2 separate regions of the Homo sapiens genome follow, and region 1 is linked to region 2. Evidence: fine-mapped QTL for protein levels in blood plasma. Region 2 holds a variant in brackets. A gene starts in the other region. All regions are shown on their forward strands.

Region 1 (8,109 bases), not on the chromosome of region 2:
AATCGCGGCAGCAGCGCGTCGTGTGAACCCGGCAGCAGCGCGCGTCCGTTCCCGTCCCAAGCAGGAGGCGCCCAGGGCCGCACCCGGGACCCCCGGTGGGGCGCTGACCCAGGCTGAGCGCGCACAGCAGCGCCAGGCCGCACAGGGCCCGAAACGCGCCCATCGCCCCGTGCTGTGCCATGCTCGGGTTTCAAGAGCCCACAGCCAGTTGGACACGCCCCGTCCCCGTCCTCACCCGCCCTGCCCGGAGGTGGCTGGGACCGTTCATGACCTGAGAATCCCGACCCAGGTGAAGTGCGTGTGAGGAGGGGGTGTAGACACTGCGGACACAGCCCGGTCCCCCGCAGGTCGCCGGCAGGGGCGGGGAAACCAGGCTGGCGGGGATCAGAAAGGTTTTCTATGCAAAGTCTGCGGCCACATTGGTGTCCCCAGTGCAGGGGGCGGCGTTTATAGCACCTTGTCCCATGGGGGCCCCTTGGAGGGCGGGGGTCAGCCAATCACTCCTCCATCCCACTGCCTCCGGGTGGTATCTGCGAGTCCCCGAGAGGTCTCCACAAATTCTGGCCACCCCCAGAGAGCCTCAACCATGGAGCCCCGTGCTGGGGAACCCCACAGAATGGGGACAGGGACCCCTCGGCTCAGCACACCCCACCTGGCTGGCTTCAGGTGTGAAACTCACCATGGGCTGCAGGCCTGTGGGCTCCCCTCCCCCTTGCTTGCAGCTCTCCAGGACCCCCCTCAGGCCAACCTGGGAAGTTCCCCGGGGCTTGGGAGGGGCACCAGGAGGAGCTGGTGGGGAGACGAGAGGGTGCTGGCGCCTCCTCGGGACAGTGTCAGCCGCCCCCGCGGGCACCCAGGGCCCGGTCTCTCAGAGCCACCTTCATCCGTCACACCAGACAGATCCAGGTCCCGGAGGGAGTTGAGGAGGAGCCCCTCGCAGAGCTCTTGGGAGACTGTCCTATGTCTTTCTGAGCCTCAGTTTCCCCTGTGGGCACCGAGGGGTTCTGGGACCCTGCCTCCACCAGGAAGCCTCCCTGGATTGCCCAGCCCTGCTTCTGCGCCGTCCAGCACAGGTGGAGACCCCCATGAATGCTGGGGGTGGGGGCTCTCGGGAACGTGAGCGTGGATGTGGTTCAACACCCTTTTGAGACCTGCAGCCACCGCCTCACCCCGTAAGGCGGTTCCTCCTTTTCCAAGGTAAATGACAGGAATTAGCTGTTTGTGACACCCCGGAGTTCTCAAATCCAAGATGTAGGAGCCTGCCTTGGAGAGGCAGCCCTCAGACACTGCAGAGAAGGAAGGGGTCTCTGCAGCTCCAGGCCGCCCCGACGCTCGGAAGGAAAGGGGTGGGGCCAGCTGGGCCTGGGGGCCTTTGAGAGGCCTGGAGATCTTCAGCCCCGAGGCTGGGAGGGGGTCTGGGCCCCTGGATAGAAAGAGGCGCCATCAGTGGCTCACGCCCGTAATCCCAGCATTTTGGGAGGCCGAGGTGGGCCTCGGATCACCTGAGGTCAGGGGTTCGAGACCAGCCTGACCCACATGGAGAAAGCCCGTCTCTACTAAAAATACAAAAAAAATTAGCCAGGCGTGGTGGCGCACGCCTGTAATCCCAGCTACTCGGGAGGCTGAGGCAGGAGAATTGCTTGAACCTGGGAGGCAGAGGTTGCGGCGAACCAAGATGGCACCATTGCACTCCAGCCTGGGTGACAGAGCGAGACTCCATCACAAAAAATAAAGAATGCTCATCAGACCACACGGTGTGAGTCATCCATCTAGAGGCAGGGACAGAGTTAGAGGAGCGAGCAGTTTATGGGGCCAAGTGGGAGGCGGCCAGCGGGCAGAGGAGCCCCTCCCCCCCGCCCCGTGGCGCAGCTGACACTTTGAACAGCCGGAGAGCAGCTTGCCACACAGGGTGGTCCCCGGAGGGGCTGCAGGGGTGTGACGTCCACCCTCCCATCCCTCTCGCCGCAGAAGGCCCCTCCCCGGCTCCCCGTGACTCCTATCCTTGGGCTGCGAGGCTGGAGGTGACTTGTTCATCTTATTGAGCAGCTCACCGGTGACACAAATGACGGGGCATTCACACAGCAGAGCAGCCCACGGGCCGGGCGAGGGACAGCCCTTGCGTACGTCCAGAAGGGCAGCTGTGAGGCCCCACGGGGAGGGTGCAGATGGGCACTGAGCCAGAGTTCAGGCAGGGCCTTCGGCACAGATGGCACAGGAGTTGCCAGCAGAGATGGCGTCAGGCGAGGGGGCGGGGAGGGTGAGCATGGAGACCAAGAGGAGGTGGCCCCGTGTCCATCTGGGGGTGCGGCAAGGGGTCCTGCTGGGGAATAAGTCCCACGGGGCCTGGGGGGTGCTGTGCCCAGAGGGGAGGAGACAGGAAGCGATGGGTATGGGCGCCAGGTTTGGGGAGGAGGCCCCTTTCCCATAGCCGTCGACCTGCGGGCCCCACAGGATCTGGCCGCTCCAGTCCCGGCCACCTGACCCCTTCCCCCACCCACCCGCCATCCTGCCTGGAGGTCTGGCCTCGCCTGCCCCACGGGGCGGGGGGCGGGGGGCTCTCAGAGGCGCGGCCCCAACCCTGTGCAGGGCCTGCAGGCTGAACCGTGTGCAGGAACCCGGGGAACTCGGTGAAGGTGCTGGATGGGGGACAGGACGGCCTCTGACTTCCCTATGCTGCGGGGGGGGAGGCTTGTGGTTAGCAGAGAGTGGGTGGAAGACAGAGGTTTGAGGAGAGAGAGACCCAGGGGAGAAAACCAGCTGCAGAGGCAGGAGGGGTCCAGGGCAGCCCGAGGCCAGAGATGGGCGTCTTCCTTACAGCCACCTGTGGTCCCGGCACCTTGGGCTGTTGTGAGTGGCGCGTGGCGCTCCCACTGTGCACCCCCGGGGCCGGTTCCCCACTTCCACGACACCGGCAGGGGGGAGCCATCCGCCAGGCACAGGAGGCCTGGACAGCCGTGGGCAGCGTGCGCTGTTGGAGGACGCAGGGAGAGGGAAGGCTGGCCCAGGGACGCTGTGTGGGGCAGCGGGTGCAGCTGCGGGGCTGGGCCACACCAGCCACGGTAGCCGGAGTGTCCAGGCTGTGCCAGGCCCTCAGCAAAACCTTCCATGAGGCTTCATGTGTTTCTTCTTAAGTAATTTTTTTAAATTTCTTTTTTTTTTTCCAGTCACGTCTCACTGCAGCCTCCATCTCTTGGGCTCAAGTGATCCTCCCACCTCGGCCTCCCAAGTAGCCGGGACCACAGGCATGCACCACCACACCCGGCTGATTTTTTCTATTTTTCATAGAAAAGGGTCTTGCCATGTTACCCAGGCGGGTCTCAAACTCCTGAGCTCAGACGATCGTCTGGCCTCAGCCTCCCAAAGTGCTAGGATTCTAGGCGTGAGCCACCGTGACCGGCCTCGGCTGTGTGTTTCTTGCTCATGAGTGCAGTGAGGGCCAGGCGTGGTGGCTCACACCTGGAATCGCAGTACTCCAGGGCACCGAGGCAGGTGGATCACCTGAGGTCAGGAGTTCAAGACCAGCTTAGCCAACATGGTGAAACCCTGTCTCTAATAAAATACAAAAATTAGCCGGGTGTGGTGCTGGGCGCCTGTAGTCCCAGCTACTTGGGAGGCTGAGGCAGGAGAATGGCGTGAACCCGGGAGGCAGAGGTTGGTGAGCTGAGATCACACCACTGCACTCCAGCCTGGGTGACACAGCAAGACTCCGGCAAAAAAAAAAAAAGAAAGAAAAAACAAGTGCAGTGAGACGTCTTAGCCCTCGGGAGTGTTTCTCTTCAGCCCCTGACACCATGGAGGCGAACAGGCACCTCCGCCTCCCGAGGGACACAGATGTCGCTTAGACGCCCGGGGTGTCTTCCCTGCGGGAAGCCTGCAGGGCTGCTCCCGCCTTGTTCCCGAGCTGTGGCCTCGGGCGTGACTGGCGCTCGGGAGCAGGCTCTGTGCTGCTCGAAGGATACCCCACTCCCAGACACCAGCTTGAGAAGATTCCCGCACGGCCGGGGACGGCCCCAGGGCCTTGGGAGCGTCTGTGGACACCTGTGGTGTGGGCCGAGGAGCTGGGAGCTCATCTGAACACGCCAGCACTCGCGCATCCACGCTGCTGGCGGATGCCTGGGTTTCTCCACTGTGGGGCCACGTTACATGAAGTCGCTGTGGTCATTCTCATTCAGATCCCAGGACTCTTAAGTGCGCAGGAGTGGGACGGCCGGGGCCCAGGGTGGACAGAAAGTTGGCTCAAGCAGAAACTGTGGTTTCCAAGGTGACTGTCCCCCTGGACACCTATGGCAGGGACATAGGGGCCGTGTGGGCCCTTTGCAGGGACTCCTCGGGGTGCTCAGGGGCCCTGGGACCCCCTTCCAGGTGCAGCAAGGGGTGGGCGTAGGTGTGGAGGGGAAGAGGGGCAGGTCTCTACACTCCTCCTCCAAGGACACAGAGCCCCGGGGGTCAGCCACTCCCAAGCTCCTTGGGCAACCCGGGGCTCAGGGGCCAGCTGCCCTTGTCAGCGCCTGGCCAGGAACCTCCACCCCAGGCAGCCTTGGGCCTGAGCTTTCCCAGTCTCTCCCCCCGCTCCCCACTCAATCTGGAACTCGCACCCAGGGACCAACCTCCAGGGTCCCACTTGACCCCGCTACCCTCACCTCCACCCTGGCCCAAGACCCCTCTCCAGCCACAGGTTGGCACAGCCCAAGTCTCCCAAGACCCCTCTCCAGCCACAGGTTGGCACGGCCCAAGTCTCCCAAGACCCCTTTCCAGCCACAGGTTGGCACGGCCCAAGTCTCCCAAGACCCCTCTCCAGCCAGAGGCGGGCACGGCCCAAGCCTCCCAAGACCCCTGTCCAGCCAGAGGCGGGCACGGCCCAAGCCTCCCAAGACCCCTCTCCAGTCAGAGGCGGGCACGGCCCAAGCCTCCATGCCACAGGTGTGCAGCCCACAGTGCCGGTCGGAGACTCCCGTCTGCCAAGGTTTTTATTGTGGTCCCGCGGGGCAGGAGGTATGCATGGCATACGTAAGCAGAGAGCCGGAGGCAGCCATCGGCACCTAGAACGGTGCAGAGTTGGCCCAGGAGCGTGGCGGGGCAGGCGGCCTGCACCTGCCCTGCTCGCCCAGCAGACCCTCCGGGCTCCAGCCTGGCGGGGCCCAGCGTCCACCTTGGTGGGCCCAGGTCAGATCTTGGCCAGGGTGGAGTGGGCGTCGGCCTGCTCCTCTTGGATGGGGGTCCGGAAACTGCCTCCCCCTGGGGAGGAAAAAAGGAGAGATTGGTGGGTGGGCCTCACCCGCCAGGAGCAGTGCGGCAGGGCCATGAGGCACTCACCAGGGGGCTTGTGGGCATCGGGGGGCAGCCTCTGGTCCCTCCGGAGCAGGTACAGGGCCAGCAGGATGGCCAGGGGGCCCAGCAGCCCCAGCACCAGGCCCAGGCCCAGGATGGCGGCAACCGCACGGCCTGCAGGAAGGGGTCTGCTGGGTGGGGTCCACAGGAGGGGCCCCCATGCCGCCCTCCCCTTCTCCTATTCGGGTTGGGGGCCCCGCTGGGCTGGGCCAGGCGCCCTTACCCCCGGGGACCTCCACGGGCCGGGTGGAGGGTCCCTGTGAGGTTCTGGGCCAGGCTTCAGTGGGCTGGACAGTGATGGGCCTGGCCGGGGGGCCCTGGGTCTCCTGGGGCTGCGTGGCTGGGGGGTCCCTGTCCTCACAGATTGCGTCCGAGCTATTGCTGGCCGGCTGCAGGGTGTGCTTCCCAGCCAAGGTGCAGCTGTTGGGGAACAGGAGGTGTTGCTCAGGCCAGAAACCCCCTGGGACCCGGGAGATGCGGTGGGGATAACAGGGTCCACGCTGGCCAGCCACAGGCAGCATCTACCACAGACACCAGGCCAGTGACAGCCAAGGACGCTGCCCAGCCCCACGTGCCCCCCACAGGGGCCTCCAAGGCCACACACCCTTCTCCCACATCTACACCCCCCACCAGCACCTCCCTGTCCTGTGCCCCCAGGGCCTCCCAGCTGCGGAGGGTGAGGGTCCCACACACCCAGCTCCACCCACAGGGAAAGGCTGCCCCCAGGCAGCAGCTTCCTGCTCCCCAACCAGGTCCAGCCACATAGCCAGGCCCCCAGGGCCACCAGCACCTCCCCTTCCCCCAAAACTGCCCCCACCCCACCTGCCCCCCCAGCCCCTCCCAGCTCCCCAGCTCCTCCGCCCTCCTAACCACCCCAACCCCCCCCCAGCCCCTCCCAGCCCCTGGCCAGGCCCCTCACTTGGTCCAGGGCTTGCAGGCCTGGTTGTCGCCTGGGGAGAAGTGCCCTGGAGGGCAGGGGGCACAGTCTGCAACAAAGATAGGGTGGTCAGGGGCTGCCCACAGGCCCCGGGTGCTGGGGACATGGGGCAGAGCCTGTGGGGCAGGCACTTGCCCCCCATGGCTGGGTGGTGGGTTTGGCCTCTGGAAGCCCTCCCTGCCCACATCCCACCCGTGGGCCCTGACCCGGGAGCTCGGTCTTGAGGATGCCAGAGGAGGCACCGGTGGGGCCAGGTCCCTGCGGCCCACGGCCCATCTGCGTCACAGACAGCCGCTATGCACACCCCCAACCGCCGGCCGCAGCCACCGAGCTCACCAACTCCAGGCTTGTAGCTGTCCAGGGGCTGGGTGCCCGCCCGGCAGCGGCAGACTGTGTCCTGTGTGGCCGTGCACAGCTGCTTCCGCTCACTCCCACTTCCTGAGCAGGGGCCGGATGGGGGGGTGGTCAGGTGGGGGCTGTGGACAGGGTCCTCAGGAAGCGTGGGCACTGGAGGACAGGTTGGCCTCCCCACCACACAGAGGGCCGTGGGCAGGGGTCTGCGGCCTCCCCTGAGACTTGGAGCCCCTGCAGCCCCCGAGGCTCCTGGGCCCTCCCTTCCTGGCCACAACCTGGGGCTGGTTCCGTGGCAGCCCCAGCCACCCTTCCCTACCCCTCCACCGCCTCCAGCCGCCAGCCCCGCCTGCGGCAGGGTCTCCATGGCCCAACCCCCCAGCCTCACTGCTCAGGCCAGCAAGGCCAGGCCACATGGCCAGCGTGGTCTCCCCGACTCCACGTGGCCTGGGCCGAGTCTGGGCCCCCGGAGGGAGAGGGGGTGCCCCTGGGAGACGCCTCAGCTCCTCGAAGGACCCCTGTGGCGGAGCAGACCCCGCTGTGGTTTGAGGTTCGTTTCTGCGGCTGTGGGAGCCCCATGCTGCTGCGTGGGAATGTGGGTGCCAGGCTGCCGCCCCCTGTGCTGGGTGGGGCTGTGGGGCCAGGTGGGAGCTCACTGAGGTTACACCACGTGCAGGGCTTGCACGGCTTGGAGCTGACCACGTCGTTGTAGAAGCCCGGCCCGCACGGACGGCACACCGTGTTCTGGGAGCGGCTGCAGCGGCTCACCATCCCGTTGCCTGCAGCAGAGGCCGGCGTCAGGCAGCGGTCAGGCCCCAGGCTTGCGCCCGTGGACCCCCCCAGGCGGCTCCTCTGCCAGGCTTGGCCGGCCCCTCACCCGCCCCCTCCCCAGGACCAGCCTCCTGGCTGGCCCATCCCTGCCCCAGCCCCCAGTCCCTGGAGTGCCCGTGCGTGGCGACCCCTCCTGAGGCCTCACCTGGCCTGCACTCGTGGCAGCACCGGTCGTTGCTGGGGTAGGTGTCCCCGACACAGTGGAGCCCCGTCACGGTGCTCAGCCCCAGGCCCAGGAGGAGCAGAGCCGCACACGGCCCGCGGCCCAGCCGCCGAGCCCCCACGCACATCCTCGTCTCTGCTGTCGCCAGAGTCTGGGTTTTCCTTGCGGGGTGTGGCTATAAGGACTGTGGAGGAGGGGAGGGGAGAGGGGAGGAGGGCAGAGGAGGCGGGAGGAGGAAGGTGGCAGGCCGGGGACCCTGGCTGTGGGCTGGGCACAAAGGCGGGGTCTGGGCACCCCCAGCATTGGCTTATTCTGCCTTCTGACCTCTTCTGCCCAAGACCACCGTGTTCAGACCCCAGGGCACAGTAGGGCCTGGCCTGCGGCTCGACCCTCAGCAAAAAGGTCCATGGAGCACGTGGGTAAACTGAGGCAGCACTGAGTCAGGAGAGGCAACTCCTCAGTCTGGACCTTCAGGGCTGTGGCACTGCTGAAGCATGGT
Region 2 (8,134 bases):
GTGCCATGTCGTATTGTGCCAGCTTCAGATATGACCCCGCACATTCACAGCTGTGGTGTCCATGGGGAGACCCACCTGCTTGAGGTGAGAGAAGAGTAAAAAGGACTTTATCTTGCAAGTGGGTGCCAGCTCAGCCCCAGTACAATAAAGCAGATTCCTAAAGCTCCCGATCCCAGGCCCTGGCTCCTGGGCAGCATTTCTAGACACACCCTGGGCCAGAAGGGAACCTGCTGCACTGAAAGTAAAGACCCAGTTCTTGCAGGATTCTTCACCTACTGACTAAAGCACCCTTGGGCCTTAAATTAACATCAGTGGTGGCCAGAAAATAGCTGCCACAGGCCTTGGGTGAGACCAAGTACAGTTCCAGTGACGGTGGCCATGGCAGTGCTTGTGTCACCCTTCCCCAAACTCCAAGCAGCTCAGCACAAAGAGAGACTCCATTTGTTTGGAGAAATGTAAGAGGACAAGAGACTGCCTGGTAATACAGGGAATTCTCCCAGATCTTCCCCAAGACTACCAAGGTGATACCTCTACAGAGTCACAACATTACTAGTCTTGGGGTGCCCTCTAATGCATGTATGGCTGCAGTGAGCGAAGACTTAGATGACAACACTTAATTCCCTTTGAATACTTGAAAAACCTTCTCAAGAAGAATGGGAGCCGGATGCAGTGGCTAACGCCTGTAATCCCAACACTCTGAGAGGCCAAGGCGGACAGATCACGAGGTTAGGAGTTCGAGACCAGCCTGACCAACATGGTGAAACACCATATTTACTAAAAATACAAAAATTAGCCAGGCGTGGTGGCACGCACCTGTAATCCCAGCTACTCAGGAGGCTGAGGCAGGAGAATTGCTTGAATCCGGGAGACGGAGGTTGCGGTGAGCAAAGACTGTGCCACTGCACTCCAGCCTGGGCGACAGAGCGAGACTCTGTCTCAAAAACAGAAAAAAAAAAAAAAGAATGCGTACAAACAAAACCAGACTACAAAGAACAGAATACCCAACTCTTCAATGCCCAGACACTGATGAACATCCACAAGCATCAAGGCCATCTGAGAAAACATGACCTCACCAAATGAACTAAAAATAAAGGACACCAGTGACCAATTCCCAAGTGATAAGAGATATGTGAACTTTCAGACAGAATTCAAGCTGAATGCTTTGAGAAAGTTCAACGAAATCCAAGATAATACAGAGAACAAATTCAGAATCCTATAAATTTAAAAAAGAGACTGCAATAATTATTAGTAAAAAGAATCAAGCAGAAATCCCAAAGTGGAAAAATTCAATTGACAAACTGAAAAATGCATCAGTCTCTCAATAGCAGAAATGTATCAAGCAGCAGAAAACATTAGTGAGCTTGAATTCAGGCTATTTGAAAATAAACAACCAAGTTGGGCACGATGACTCACGCTTATAATCCTAGCACTTTAGGATGCCAAGGCGGGCGGATCACCCTGAGGTCAGGAGCTCAAGACCAGCCTGGCAAATATGGCAAAACCCCGTCTTTACTAAAAATACAAAAAGTAGCTGGGCGTGGTGGCACATGCTTGTAATCCCAGCTACTTGGGAGGCTGAGGCAGAAGAATCGCTTGAACCTGGGAGTTGGAGGTTGTAGTGAGCCAAGATGGCACCACTGCACTCCAGGCTGGTAACAGAGCATGACTCTGTCTCAAAAAAAAAAAAAAAAAAAAAAAGTTCTTCAATCTGCAAGAAAAGGATGTTAACAAACAATAATAAATCACCTGAAGGTGCAAAAACTCACTGGTAACAAGTACACAGAAAAATACAGAATATTGTAACACTGTAATTGTGGTGTATAAACTACTACTCATATTTTGAGCAGGAAGAATAAAAAATGAACCTTTCAAAAATAAGAACTACAATTTTTTTTTTTTTTGTGAGACAGAGTCTTGCTCTGCTGCCCAGGCTGGACGGCAGTGGCGCGATCTCGGCTAACTGCAACCTCCGCCTCCCAGGTTCAAGCGATTCTCCTGCCTCAGCCTCCTGAGTAGCTAGGATTACAGGTGCGTGCCACCACGCCTGGCTAATTTTTGTATTTTTAGTAGAGACAGAGTTTCACCACGTTGGTCAGGCTGGTCTCGAACTCCTAACCTTGTGATTCGCCCCACCTTTGCCTTCCAAAGTGCTGGGATTAGGCGTGAGCCACTAGGCCAGGGTTTTGTTTTGTTTTGTATTGTTTTTTGAGACAGTCTTACTCTGTTGCCCAGACTGGAGTGCAGTGGCGCACTCTCGGCTCACTGCAACCTGGGCCTCCTGGGTTCAAGTGATTCTCCTGCCTCAGCCTCCGAGTAGCTGGGATTACAGGCACCCGCCACCATGTCCGGCTAATTTTTCTATTTTTAGTAGAGAGGGGGTTTTGCCATATTGGCTAGGCTGGTCTCGAACTCCTGACCTTAGGTGATCCGCCCACCTCAGCCTCCCAAAGTGCTGGGATTACACACGTGAACCACTGCGCCTGGCTTATAACTACAGTTTTTTAAGACATAGTATAATAAAGATATAAATAAAAACAACAAAAGTTAAAAAGCGGGCAGATGAAGTGTAGAGTTTTTATTAGTTTTCTCTTTGCTTGCTTGTTTTTGCAATCAAAGTTTCAAGTTGTCATTGGTTTAAAATAATGGGTTATAAAATGTTATTTGCAACCCTTATGTGATCTCTTTTTTTTTTTTTTTTTTGAGACGGAGTCTCACTCTGTCGCCCAGGCTGGGGTGCAGTGGCACAATATTGACTCACTGCAACCTCTGCCTCCTGGGTTCAAGCAATTCTCCTGCCTCAGCCTCCTGAGTATCTGAGATTACAGGCACGTGCCTCCACGCCTGGCTAAGTTTTGTATTTTTAGTAGAGATGGGGTTTCACCATGTTAGCCAGGCTGGTCTCAATCTCCTGACCTCTTGATCCACCCACCTCGGCCTCCCAAAGTGCTGGGATTACAGGTGTGAACCACTGCACCCAGCTGTCATGGTGATCTTAAATCAAAAACACCTACAACAGATACACAAAAAATATAAAGCAGGAAATTAAAACATACCACCAGAGAAAATCACTTTCAAAACAAGGAAGGGAGGGAGGGAAAAAAGGAGCGAAGAGGAAGTAAAAAAGAAGGGGGAAGGGAGGGAGTAGGACTACAAAACAACCAGATAATAAGTAACAAAATGGTAGTAGTTAAGTCCTCACTAATCAGTAACAACACTGAATGTAAATCGACTAAACTCTCCAATCAAAAGATA[C/T]AGAGTGGCTAAATGGATTTAAAAAAAAGGCTGGGTGCGGTGGCTCACGCCTGTAATCCCAGGACTTTGGGAGGCCAAGGCAGGCAAATCACCTGAGGTTAGGAGTTCAAGAACAGCCTGACGAACATACTGAAACCCCATCTCTACTGAAAATACAAAAAATTTAGCTGGGCTTGGTGGCAGGCGCCTGTAATCCCAGCTACTTGGGAGGCTGAGGCAGGAGAATCGCTTGAACTCAGGAGGCGGAGGTTGCAGTGAGCTGAGATAGCGCCATTGCCCTCCAGCCTGGGCAACAATAGCAAAACTCTGTCTCAAAAAAAAAAAAAAAAAAACCAAAGATCCATTGCCTACAAGAAACACACTTTACCTATAAAATCACACATAGACTAAAATTGAAGAGCTGGAAAACAATATTCCATGCAAATGGAAACCAGAAAAGAACAGGAGTAGCTATGCTTAGATAAAATAGATTTTGAGACAAAGTCTATAAAAACAGACAAAGAAGATTATTGTATAATGATAAAGGGATCAATTCGGCAAGAGGTTATAACAAGTATAAATACATATGCAACCAATACTGGAGCATCCAGATATATAAAGCAAACATTATTAGAGCAAAAAAGAGAAACAGACCTCAGTAACAGTCGGAAACTTCAACACCCCACTCTCAGCAATGGACAGATCATTCAGACAGAAAATCAACAAAGAAACATTAGACCTAATTTGCTCTATAGACCAAATAGGCCCAATACATATTTACAGAACATTGTGTCCAACAGCTATAGAATACACATTCTTCTCCTCAACATATGGATTGCTCTCAAAGATAGACCCTATGTTAAGCCACAAAACAAGTCTAAAGATTTGACGTGGCACAGTGGCTCATGTCTGTAATCCCAGCACCTTGGGAGGCCGAAATAGGTGGATTGCTTGAGCTCAGGAGTTCGAAACAACCCTGGGACACATCGCAAAGCCCCATCTCTACAAAAAAAAAAAAAATCCAAAAATATCAGCCATATGTGACGGCATGTGCCTGTAGTCCCAGCTACTTGGAAGGCTAAGGTGGGAGGATTGCTTGAGCCAGGAAGGCGGAGGTTGCAGGTGAGCCAAGATCATGACATGTACTCCAGCCTGGGTAACAGAGTGAGACTCTGTTACAAACAAACAAACAAACAAACAAATAAATAAATAAAAATTCAAAAAAGTTAAAATCATATCAACTATCTTCTCTGATCACAATAAGATAACACTAGAGGCCGGGCACGGTGGCTCATGCCTGTAATTCCAGCACTTTAGGAGGCCAAGGTGGGTGGATCATCTGAGGTCAGGAGTTCGAGATCAGCTTGACCAACATGGTGAAACCCCCTCTCTACTAAAAATACAAAAAAAAATTAGCCAGGAGTGGTGGTACATGCCTGTAATCCCAGCTACTCAGGAGGCTGAGGCAGAAGAATCACTTGAACTGGGGAGGCAGAGGTTGCAGTAAGCCGAGATCGCGCCACTACACTCCAGCATGGGTGACAGAGCGAGACTCCATCTCAAAAAAACAAAAATAAAAATAAAATAAAATAACACTAGATAACAAGAGGAACTTTGGAAAGTATACAAATACATGAAAATTAAGCAATATGCTCCTGAATGACCAGTGGGTCCATGAAGAAATTAAGAAGAAAACTGGAAAATTCCTTGAAACAAATGAAAATGGAAACACAGCTTATCAAAACCTATAGGATACAGTAAAAGCAACAATAAGAGGAATGTTTACAGCAGTAAGTGCCTACATCAAAAAAGTGGAAAAACTTCATCTGCCAATACATCCTAAAGAACTAGAAAAGCAAGGACAAAACCTAAAATCAGTAGAAGAAATAAAAAAAATCAAAGCAGAAATAAATAAAATTGAAATGAAGAAAATACAAAAGATCAATAAAACAGTAAATTGTTTTGAAGAGATAAACAAAACTGACAAACCTTTAGCCAGACTCAGAAAAAAAAGAGAAAACCCAAATAATAAAATGAGAGATGAAAAAGGAGACATTATAATTGTTACCACCGAAATTCAAAGGATCATTAGAGACTACTATGAGCATCTATATGCTGATACATTGGAAAACCTTGAAGAAATGGATAAATTCCTAGACACATACAACCTACCAAGACTGAACCACAAAGAAATCCAAAACCCAAATACAATAACAAGTAACGAGACCAATAACAAGTAACGAGATCAAAGCTATAAGAAATAGTCTCCCAGCAAAGAAAAGCCATGGACCTGATGGCTTCACTGCTGAATTCTACTAAACCTTTAAAGAAGAACTAATACCAATCCTACTCAAACTATTCCAACACAATACAGGAAGAGGGAATACTTCTAAACTCATTCTACAAGGCCACTATTACCCTATACAAAACCAAAGGACACATCAAAAAGGGAAAACTAGAAGCCAGTGTCTCTGAAGAACATTATGCAAAAATCCTCAATATAATACTAGCAAACCGAATTCAGTAACACATTAAAAAGATCATTCATCATGACTAAGTGGGATTCATCCCAGGGATGCAAGGATGGTTCGACATACGCAAATCAATAAACATGGTACATCTTAACAGAATAAAAGACAAAGACTAAAAAATATATATATATATTATTTATACTGTGTATGATATAAATATATATCACATGATATAAATATATAATTTATATCACATAAAATGCCACATCCCCTTATGATTAAAACCCTTGGCCGGGCGTGGTGGCTCACGCCTGTAATCCCAGCACTTTGGGAGGCTGAGACGGGCAGATCATGAGGTCAGGAGTTCGAGACCATCCTGGCTAACACGGTGAAACCCCGTCTCTACTAAAAATACAAAAAATTAGCCGGGCGTGTTAGCGGACACCTGTAGTCCCAGCTACTCGGGAGGCTGAGGCAGGAGAACGGCATGAACCCAGGAGGTGGAGCTTGCAGTGAGCCAACATTGCGCCACTGCACTCCAGCCTGGGTGACAGAGTGAGACTCCATCTCAAAAACAAACAAACAAAAAAACCCCAAAGAACTGGGTATAGAAGGAATATACCTCAACAAAACAGAAGCCATATATGACAGACCCATAACTAGTACCATACTGAAAAGGGAAAAACTGAAAGGCTTTCCTCTAAGATCTGGAACAAGACAAGGATGCCCACTTTCACCATTGTTATTCAACATAATACTCGGAAGTCCTAATTGGAGCAATCAGACAACAGAAAGAAATAAAAAGCATCCACACTGGAATGGAAGAAGTCAAATTATCCTTGTTTGCAGATAATATGATCTTACATTTGGAAAAACCTAGACTCCAAAAAAGAAAAACCTATTAGAACTGACAAACAAATTCAGTAAAATTGCAGGATACAAAAATCAACACACAAAAATCAGGAGCATTTTTATATTTAACAGCAAACAATCTGAAAAATTTTTTAAACGCAATCCCATTTACAATAGCTACAAATATAATAAAATACTTAGGAATAAACTTAACCAAATGAGTAAAAGATTTCTATAATGACAACTTTAAAACACTGAAATTGATGACACAGAAAAAACATGAAAAGAGATTCCATGTTTATGGATTAGAAGAATTAATATTGCTAAAATGTTGATAATACTCAAAGCAATCTACAGATTCAGTGCAATCCCTATCAAAATACCAATGACATTCCTCACAGAAGTAGACAAAAATAATTCTAAAATTTGTAGGGAACCACAAAAGGCCCAAAAGAGCAAAAGCCATACTGAGCAAAATGAACAAAACGGGAGGAATCATTATCTGACTTCAAATTATTGTAACCAAAATGGCATGGTACTGGCATAAAAAAAGATATAGATCAATGAAACAGAACAGAGAACTCAGAAATGAATCCATACGTCTAAGTGAACTCATTTTCCACAAAGAAGCCATGAACATACACTGGGGAAAGGACAGTCTCTTCAATAAATGGTGCTGGGAAAACTGGATATCCATATGCAGAAGAATGAAACCAGACCCCTGTGTCCCACCATATTAAAAAAAAATCAAATCAAAATGGACTAAAGATTTAAATCTAAGACCTCAAACTATGAAACTACTAAAAGAAAACATTAAACTCCCAGGGACATTACTCTGGGCAAAGATTTCTTGAGTAATACCCCAAAAGTACAGGCAACCAAAGCAAAGATGGACAAATGGGATCACATCAAGTTAAAAAGCTTCTGCACAGCAAAGGAAACCATCAACAAAGTGAAGAGACAGCCCACAGAATGGGAGAAAATATTTGCAAACTACTCATCTGACAAGGGATCAATAACCAGAATATAAAAGGCACTCAAGCAACTCCATAGGGAAAATTTTAGTAACTCAATTAAAAATGGGCAAAAGATCTGAATAGACATTTCTCAAAAGACGACATACAGGCTGGGCGCAGCAGCTCACGCCTGTAATCCTAGCACTTTGGGAGGCTGAGGCAGGTAAATCACCTGAGGTTAGGAGTTCAAGACCAGCCTGGGCAACAAGGAGAAATCCCGTCTCTACTAAAAATACAAAAATTAGGCAGACATGGTGGCAGGAGGCAGGAGAATTGCTTGAATCCGGGAGGTGTAGGGCGCAGTGAGCCAAGATCACACCACTACGCTCCAGCCTGGGCAACAAAGTGAGACTCTGTCTCAAAAACAAAACAAAACAAAAAAAAAAGGAAGACATACAAGGCCAGGTGCAGTGGCTCACAACTATAATTTCAGCATTTTGGGAAGCCAAGGTGGGAGGATTGCTTGAGCCCAGGAGTTCGAGACCAGCCTGGGCCAAACAGCAAGACCTCATCGTTATTTATGAATGGCAAACAGGTATATGAAAGGTATTCAATACTACTGAT

Direction of the effects. Alleles are on the strand shown, and positions count from the first base shown. The strength of an association depends on the size of the effect and on how common the allele is.
For the plasma level of the protein whose gene starts at base 7,763 in region 1, C is the high allele of the variant in region 2 and T is the other (moderate association).

Evidence for each region. A credible set is the group of variants that fine-mapping cannot tell apart. PIP is the posterior inclusion probability: the model's chance that the variant is causal. Protein levels are from antibody-based Olink assays in UK Biobank. Linkage for the fine-mapping came from a reference panel and not from the study's own genotypes, which makes the PIPs less certain.
Region 1: it holds the start of TNFRSF4, and the variant in region 2 is the best candidate, but not a certain one, in a credible set for the plasma level of the TNFRSF4 protein (UK Biobank, PIP 0.54).

What each region holds. Positions count from the first base shown.
Region 1 is chr1:1,206,391-1,214,499 of GRCh38, forward strand. TNFRSF4 (TNF receptor superfamily member 4) reads right to left here and starts at 7,763. Exons shown (of 7, transcript NM_003327.4): 1 at 7,593-7,763; 2 at 7,273-7,395; 3 at 6,602-6,703; 4 at 6,248-6,314; 5 at 5,552-5,748; 6 at 5,314-5,442; 7 at 4,950-5,235. The coding sequence starts at 7,737. The coding sequence ends at 5,165. It overlaps TNFRSF18 (TNF receptor superfamily member 18), which reads right to left and starts at 202. Exons shown (of 5, transcript NM_004195.3): 1 at 1-202. The coding sequence starts at 181. RefSeq lists an enhancer at 1,782-2,661 and silencers at 1,858-1,947, 2,528-2,637, 6,841-6,890.
Region 2 is chr12:111,491,744-111,499,877 of GRCh38, forward strand. The region is part of intron 14 of ATXN2 (ataxin 2); the gene reads right to left. Among named protein-coding and RNA genes, the nearest start is that of SH2B3, 90 kb to the left of the region's middle. The variant C/T (reference allele first, on the strand shown) is at 3,253.